2 linked regions of the Homo sapiens genome follow. Changing the gene in region 2 together with the main gene of any one other region gives a genetic interaction. Each region holds a gene or a part of one and is shown on either strand. Other genes may lie near its edges.

Region 1 (3,500 bases), on a different chromosome or scaffold from region 2:
AGCACAGCAAGGTGACTACAGTTAATATATTTCAAAATAGCCAAAAGAGAGGATTTAAAATGTTCCCATCACAAAGAAATGATAAATGTTTAAAGTGGTAGATATGGTAATTACTCTGATTTGATGATTCTACAATGTATGCATGTGTCAATATCACTTTGTACTCTATAAGTGTCTAAAATTATTGTCAAAATAAAACAGAAAACACATCTTAGAGTTTTATAACAATATTTATATATTTATAACATTTTATCAGCTGATAGCATTAACTGTTATTCAGAAACACAAATTGCATATAATTATAGAACCTAAAGCTGTAGTATACATAATTCTACATAACTACTCATTTTATATACCTACATACCCTGTAGACCCAAACTTTTATGTTCTCCTTTGACTCACTGCTGCTACATATGGCTGCAGAGCTCCAATTTGACAACTACAATGTGAGTGACTCTCCGGGGATTATGCAACACGGTGGCCCTTTTCGAATCAGTCTCATTTTATATAAACTTGATATTCTTCCACAAATAAGTGCTCCACAAAGATTGCAACATAAAAACACAGTTATAGAAGAAGACATTAGAAAAAAAAAATTAAAAAAATCTTCATTCATGAGATTCGTACATAATTATAGAATTGTAAATCTTTTTCTAGAGCCTTTCAGAAAAAAATGAAATTCACTGAAATGAGATTACTAAATCAGCGTTAGTCTGGGATATCTTCCAGGGCAGAGAAACAGCTTTGCTAAATAAAATTAATGATAAAATGACTCTTAACAAAATAGCATTTACCCCGGAGTCCACACTAGACATGCAAGTATTACCACTGCTCTTCTAAAACTTGTTATAACTAAGATGGGAAGATATAGCTAACTCTGGAAAGAAATACCCAGTTCAGCAAAGATTTTAGCAAGTTGTCAAAACAGGGATTTGGAAACAGCAGTAGATGTGTTTTTCAACAATTGTTTGAATACATTTTAATCAAAATCTGGTTAGGATTCCCAGAATTTCTTATGTCTGTTTTATATCTGTTCATATATTGAGAATTACCTTTGAAGTGGATTTTTAGAAACTATAAGAGGTAAACATGCTGAAAGAAGCAGTAAAAGGTAAAAAGCTGCTCCTGGAATATCTTCTTTTTTCCTATAACCTGAAGGGCAGTTTCTTGGGGAATACACTTCTCAGGATTAGTCATTTTTGTTGTCATTGTTTTTACATACCAACCTTCTGTAATTAATCCTGAGGATTAAAATATACTGCTTCTTCATTGGATACCAAATTGTTTCTACCAAGACAGAATCTCAAATTGTGTTACCAATCTGGAAGCACACTTACTGCTATAATCTGTTGCTTTAATTTGGCAACAGAAGTCTGTCATGGTAGTATTTTTATTTTAAATTTTTAAACATCACGGGCCTACTACACAGTTTTTTCTTTCTTCCTGATTTTTTAGTTCTGCCCCACCAAGGATTCTACTTGCATGTAATTTAGAGCAGGCATCACGCTTTTTCTGTAAAGGACCTGAAATGAATGCCTTTGTAAGACACACAGCTTCTGTCACAACTACTTCGCTTTACCATTGTGTCGTGAGTGCAGACATAGGCAATATATAAATGAATGACTTTGGCTTTGTTCCATAAAACTTTATTAAATAAAAGAAAGTTCCAGCGGCAGGCTGGAACAGCCCCCATGGGCCAGTTTGCCAATTCCTGGTTTTGAAAATCAAATACTTCTACAAGAATTTTTTTATAAAAGTGGCAGTACTCTATTATTCCTTTCCTGCTTCAATTGCAGTTAGTTCGCATAGAGTTTACCCCTACAGTAAGATGTTTATGTACTGTATTAGCTTTTTTATTTTAAGCACTAGCTATTAACTTTATGTTGTGGTAGGTAAAGATTTAGATCTCTTTTCTCCTTCAGGCTCTAAGTCATATATCCCCTCCATCCTCCTCATATACTTATCTCCTGATATCCCCCCTTCATCCTCCTTATATACTTGAATCAGATTAGGTGAACATTTATTGATTATGTTATTGTGACTGTGAGTCATGTACTGAGTTATTACTACTTTTCTGCATAATATTTCTGTTTTCTACAGTTTGTGATAGGTTTATTTTGTTAGTTTTCTGTCTTATCTGTAGTGTAACACCAAACTCTCCATCTGCTATTGATATGTCCTCTCCAGATATTCAGCACACCAAGTATCCCAAACCTAAGTCTCCTGTCACCATCATCCTGGGAAGTTCCTTCTGCCTAAGTCTTCTGTTTCTTGTCTCCTATGCCATTCTTATTATTTGTATCCTTCCTCATTTTAGGGGAGCCAGTAGCTTCTTGGACAGAAATGTACAAGGATGTAAATTTTTTTGAATAAACTGCATGTGTGGAAGTATTTTTCTTCTTCCCTAGGTTGGAAATTCTTTTCCTTCATAATTTTAGAAGCATTAGCTGCTCTATAGTTTGACTTCCAGAATTAAAGTCTGAAACCATTGTGATCTGTGCGTCTTTTCTTTTTAGTTTATTATTTGGTGACTTGTTTTATTATCTGAAATCTTGTAGGTCCCAATATACTAATGTGACTATTTTCATATATTGTTTTCAGTCTTCTTAGCCTGAAAAATCATGTTTTTCATTGGAGTTTCTATATTCTAGCTTTTAATACTCAAGCAAGCATGTTTGACCTATGCCTTCAGCAGCTCAGCTTGTCACTAAGTGACTCAGGATACTAGCAATAACCTTCCTTCCTAAATTATCTTTTTTCTATCTTTCCTCTATTGTATCAGGAAACTCAGCAGCAGGTTGAAGAAACAGGTTCACTTTGCGCTGTACTTAAATGAATGGTCCATGAGTAGACGACATTTCTTGGAAAAGGTTGAACAGAAGCTGTGTCTAATAGTCAGAATAGATGCGTATCAGTTTCCTAAGGCTGCCATAACAAAGTATCACAAATTGAGTGGTTTAAAACTATGTAAATTGGCCAGGCGCGGTGGCTCACACCTGTAATCCCAGCACTTTGGGAGGCCGAGGCAGGTGGATCACAAGGTCAGGAGTTCGACACCAGCCTGGCCAACGTGGTGAAACCCCATCTCTACTAAAAATACAAAAATCAGCTGAGCGTGGTGGCGGGTGCCTGTAGTCCCAGCTACTCGGGAGGCTGAGACAGGAGAATCGCTTGAACCCGGGAGGCGGAGGTTGCAGTAAGCCAAGATCACGCTACTGCAACTCCAGCCTGGGTGACAGAGTGAGACTCCCAACAACAACAACAAAAAAGTAAATTTATTTTCTCACAGTTGAGGAGGGTGAAAGCTTGAAATTAAGGTGTCAGTGAGGCCACACTTTCTCTGGAAGCTCCAGAGGGGAAACTTTCCTGTGTCTTTGAGCTACTGGTGGCTGATGCCAGGATAACTCCAATCTTTGCCCTTAGTGTTCACGTAGTCTTTACTGTGTCTCTCTGTGCCCCTATATCAAAATATTCTTCTCCTTATAAGGAAACCAGTCTTA
Region 2 (3,472 bases):
GGGCTCATCATAGGCCAGCAGTATGCATTGGTTTGATGGGATGCAATTTAAATGGAGAAGCACTAAGATTCTAGAGTAAAGAATCACAAGAGGGAGGAGGAATTTTGAAGTACTCATTTTCCTGATTGTTTTAGAGGAGAGATGACATGGGCTTGGGTATTAAACTGGATATGGGATGGAATAAGATTTTGAGAGTTGAAAGTGACTAAAAGATTGTATCATTCACCTTTACGCTTGCCGATGAGGAAATCAAGCCCTAATAAGATCAGGTACCTAATCTCAGCCAAAATTAGAACCTAATCTACTTTTTTCTATACCAATTTGTAAGGAGATTGTGATTATAAGGAGATCTTTAAAAAAAAAAAAACCTGGGCTGCGGAATATATTAGGAAGTTATCAATAATTATATTAGGAAGTTATCAATAATTCATCTGTAAAATTGGAGATGTTAATATCTACCTCACTGAGCTGTTGGGAAGATTAAATGTAATCCAGGAAGCACATTTAAGTAGAGTGCTAGGCAAATGATGCTTACTGCTTTGATGGTCAGTTTGTTTTTTTTTTTTTTTTTTTGAGACAGAGTCTCGCTCTGTCGCCCAGGCTGGAGTGCAGTGGTGCGATCTCCGATCACTGCAAGCTCCGCCTTCCGGGTTCATGTCATCCTCCTGCCTCAGCCTCCCGAGTAGCTGGACTACAGGCGCCCGCCACCATGCCCGGCTAATTTTTTGTATTTTTAGTAGAGATGGAGTTTCACCATGTTAGCCAGGATGGTCTCGATCTCCTGACCTTGTGATCCGCCCGCCTCGGCCTCCCAAAGTGCTGGGATTACAGGCTTGAGCCACCGCGCCCGGCTGATGGTCAGTTTTTACACTCACACATGCACACACACACTGTCCAAAAAGTGAAATCTCTCAGTTTTATAGATTTGAGTCCTTGACCAAAGACTGAAAGAGTAGTGAAGCCACACATCTTTGCCTTTGTCACACATAATGATAATTTCCCCCATGACACCTTTTACTGGCACTTAGTCCCTTAAGTGCTTCTGAAAGTAAAACTGATGGGAAGTTTTTTATATCTGTTAGATTAGCAAAGATCAAAGACTTGATAATATACAGTGTTCTGAAGGTATAGGGAAACAGTACTCTCACACATTGTGTAAATTATCCTAACCCTTTTGGAGGACATGTTGGCAATACCTTAAAAATTTTAAAGTCCACATGGTCTTTGACTTAGAAATTTCAGTTCTAATCATTCTTTATATATATATATATATATATATATATATGTATATATATATCTGTATATAGATATATATGCTTCTAGCTGTGCAAAAAGACATTTATACAGAGACAGCTTTGTTTGTAGTAGACAAAGATATGAAACAAGCTAATGTCCATTAAGCAGAGTGGATAAGTAAATCATGATACATGGACAAAATGAGTGGACTATTCTGTGTTTCAGAATGGGCATGACCGATATATATGTGTATTAATGTGGGTCAGTCTCCGTGATATAACACTGAGCAACAAAAGCAAGATACAGAACGCTATGTATTATGTGCATAAAATAGCTCTGAAAAGATGGGCAGGGCGCGGTGGCTCACGCCTGTAATCCCAGCACTTTGGGAGGCTGAGGCGGGCAGATCACGAGGTCAGGAGATCAAGACCATCCTGGCTAACACAGTGAAACCCCATCTCTACTAAAAATACAAAAAATTAGCCGGGCGTACTCGTGGGCGCCTATAGTCCCAGCTATTTGGGAGGCTGAGGCAGGAGAACGGCTTGAACCGGGGAGGCGGAGCTTGCAGTGAGCGGAGATCACGCCACTACACTCCAGCCTGTGTGGCAGAGTGAGACTCCATCTCAAAAAAAAAAAAAAGTGTTGGGAGAGCATAGAATGAATATAATACAGTTGAAGCTTTGTATAGATACTTTCTGGTTAGGGATGAGAATGCCCTTCTGGTCTTTCTGAGTACCAGCCTGCATTTCTCTATGTCATGTCCTCCCTCAGGTATTTGAGTACAGCATCCCAGACAAACAGTATACAGATTGGAGCCGGACTGTCCAGAAGCAGGGCTTTCACCACCTTTGGCTCCAAAGGGATACTCCTATCACACACATCAGTTTTCATCCCAAGAGACCGATGCACATCCTTCTCCATGATGCCTACATGTTCTGCATCATTGACAAGTCATTGGTGAGTTCTTCACTGCTACCTCCCAAATCTTCTTCTGAATCTTAAAGTTCTAAAAGCAACAAGTACAATAAGGTAAGAGGACAGAGACTCAGAATAAAGGTAGCTAGTAAATCAGAATACAGGTAGCTAGTACATTTCTTGGAGGAGAGGGGCTTTTGTTTTACAGATTCCCTGGTTTGTGTTCCCACAGTTCTTCGGGAGGCTCTCGGGGAAGGGGCTGGCCTTTGTATACTGGCTTTTGCTGATTTGACTATTTGTCTACTTTGCGAGTAAGCACATAAATCTTACACAGAAAAGTGATTAGGCCAGTATTCGGAAGGTGACCCTCATCCGGAAGTATCATTGATTTGGCTAACTTGCTTTCAACTTTGAACTCTGGGGTATCTGAATAACCTGGTTTCATTAAAGGAGGTACAGGCTGAGGTTTTGACCTCTGTGCCCCTTCGCTAAAGCTACTAAAACGCTGTCTGCAGGCTTGAGGAACTGGTCTTAACATCTTCGAAAAACCCAGCTAGGAAAATTCTTCATGGCTGTGATTTACATGGGATACGAGCATTTTCTTCAGTTTTAGATTCTGTCCTCTTTGCCAGCTGCTGTTTTGATTCACCCTGAATTTGTATGGCTTTTCTGGGCAGGTGCTTTGTTTCCTAGGAGCATTGTGGCCATGCCTGTCCTGCACTTTGGGCTTAGATTACAACCATCACACGGTGTTTTGGTGTGTTTGTGAAGGTGGGGGTGGAAGGAACATGGGGGAAAGCAGCAGATGGCTCTAAAGGAGGTGTGCACGGGGATGTGTCACTGGAATCATCTCGTGGGCCCTGCGACCTCTGGGTGTGGGAAGCAGAGCTGGCTGACAAGTGCCTTCTGCAAGATGAGTGATACAGGAAGGGCCCCTCCCACTCTCTTGCCTCTTTGTAATTGAGCCCAGATCATTTTTTCCAAAGCATTGGCTTTAAGTTCATCGCTTCCTTACAGTAGGCATAGCTATTTCCCAGGAAGTCAGAGACAAAATATCATTTCTTTGGCCAGAGGCCACCTCGAGGTGTCAGTGACATCAGCACAGGTGGTTTGTGTTGAGGTTTCGCCTGGGGAGAACTCCAGTCACTTGTCCAGTCTGTGATCTGGTTGGGGGAGAGTCTAGAAAGCACAGACCCTGTGTGGGCTGAGCTCCTGCACTTGCCAGTTTGTTCCATTCTGACAAAGTGATACTGATGAGACAGGCCAGAAGCCGCAGAAGGGCCCTTTGATCTTGCTGCATGGAGTTAACAAGCTCTCT

Evidence for each region.
Region 1: changes in UTP4 (region 2) and SRFBP1 together harm fitness more than expected from each alone (negative genetic interaction), as found in Homo sapiens cells (one large-scale study listed by BioGRID).

The regions. Positions count from the first base shown.
Region 1 is NC_000005.10:122,013,975-122,017,474, forward strand, and holds part of SRFBP1 (serum response factor-binding protein 1), read left to right. Parts: intron 1-3,500. UniProt on the Homo sapiens protein: May be involved in regulating transcriptional activation of cardiac genes during the aging process. May play a role in biosynthesis and/or processing of SLC2A4 in adipose cells.
Region 2 is NC_000016.10:69,163,331-69,166,802, forward strand, and holds part of UTP4 (U3 small nucleolar RNA-associated protein 4 homolog), read left to right. Parts: intron 1-2,010; coding exon 2,011-2,196; intron 2,197-3,472. UniProt on the Homo sapiens protein: Ribosome biogenesis factor. Involved in nucleolar processing of pre-18S ribosomal RNA. Part of the small subunit (SSU) processome, first precursor of the small eukaryotic ribosomal subunit.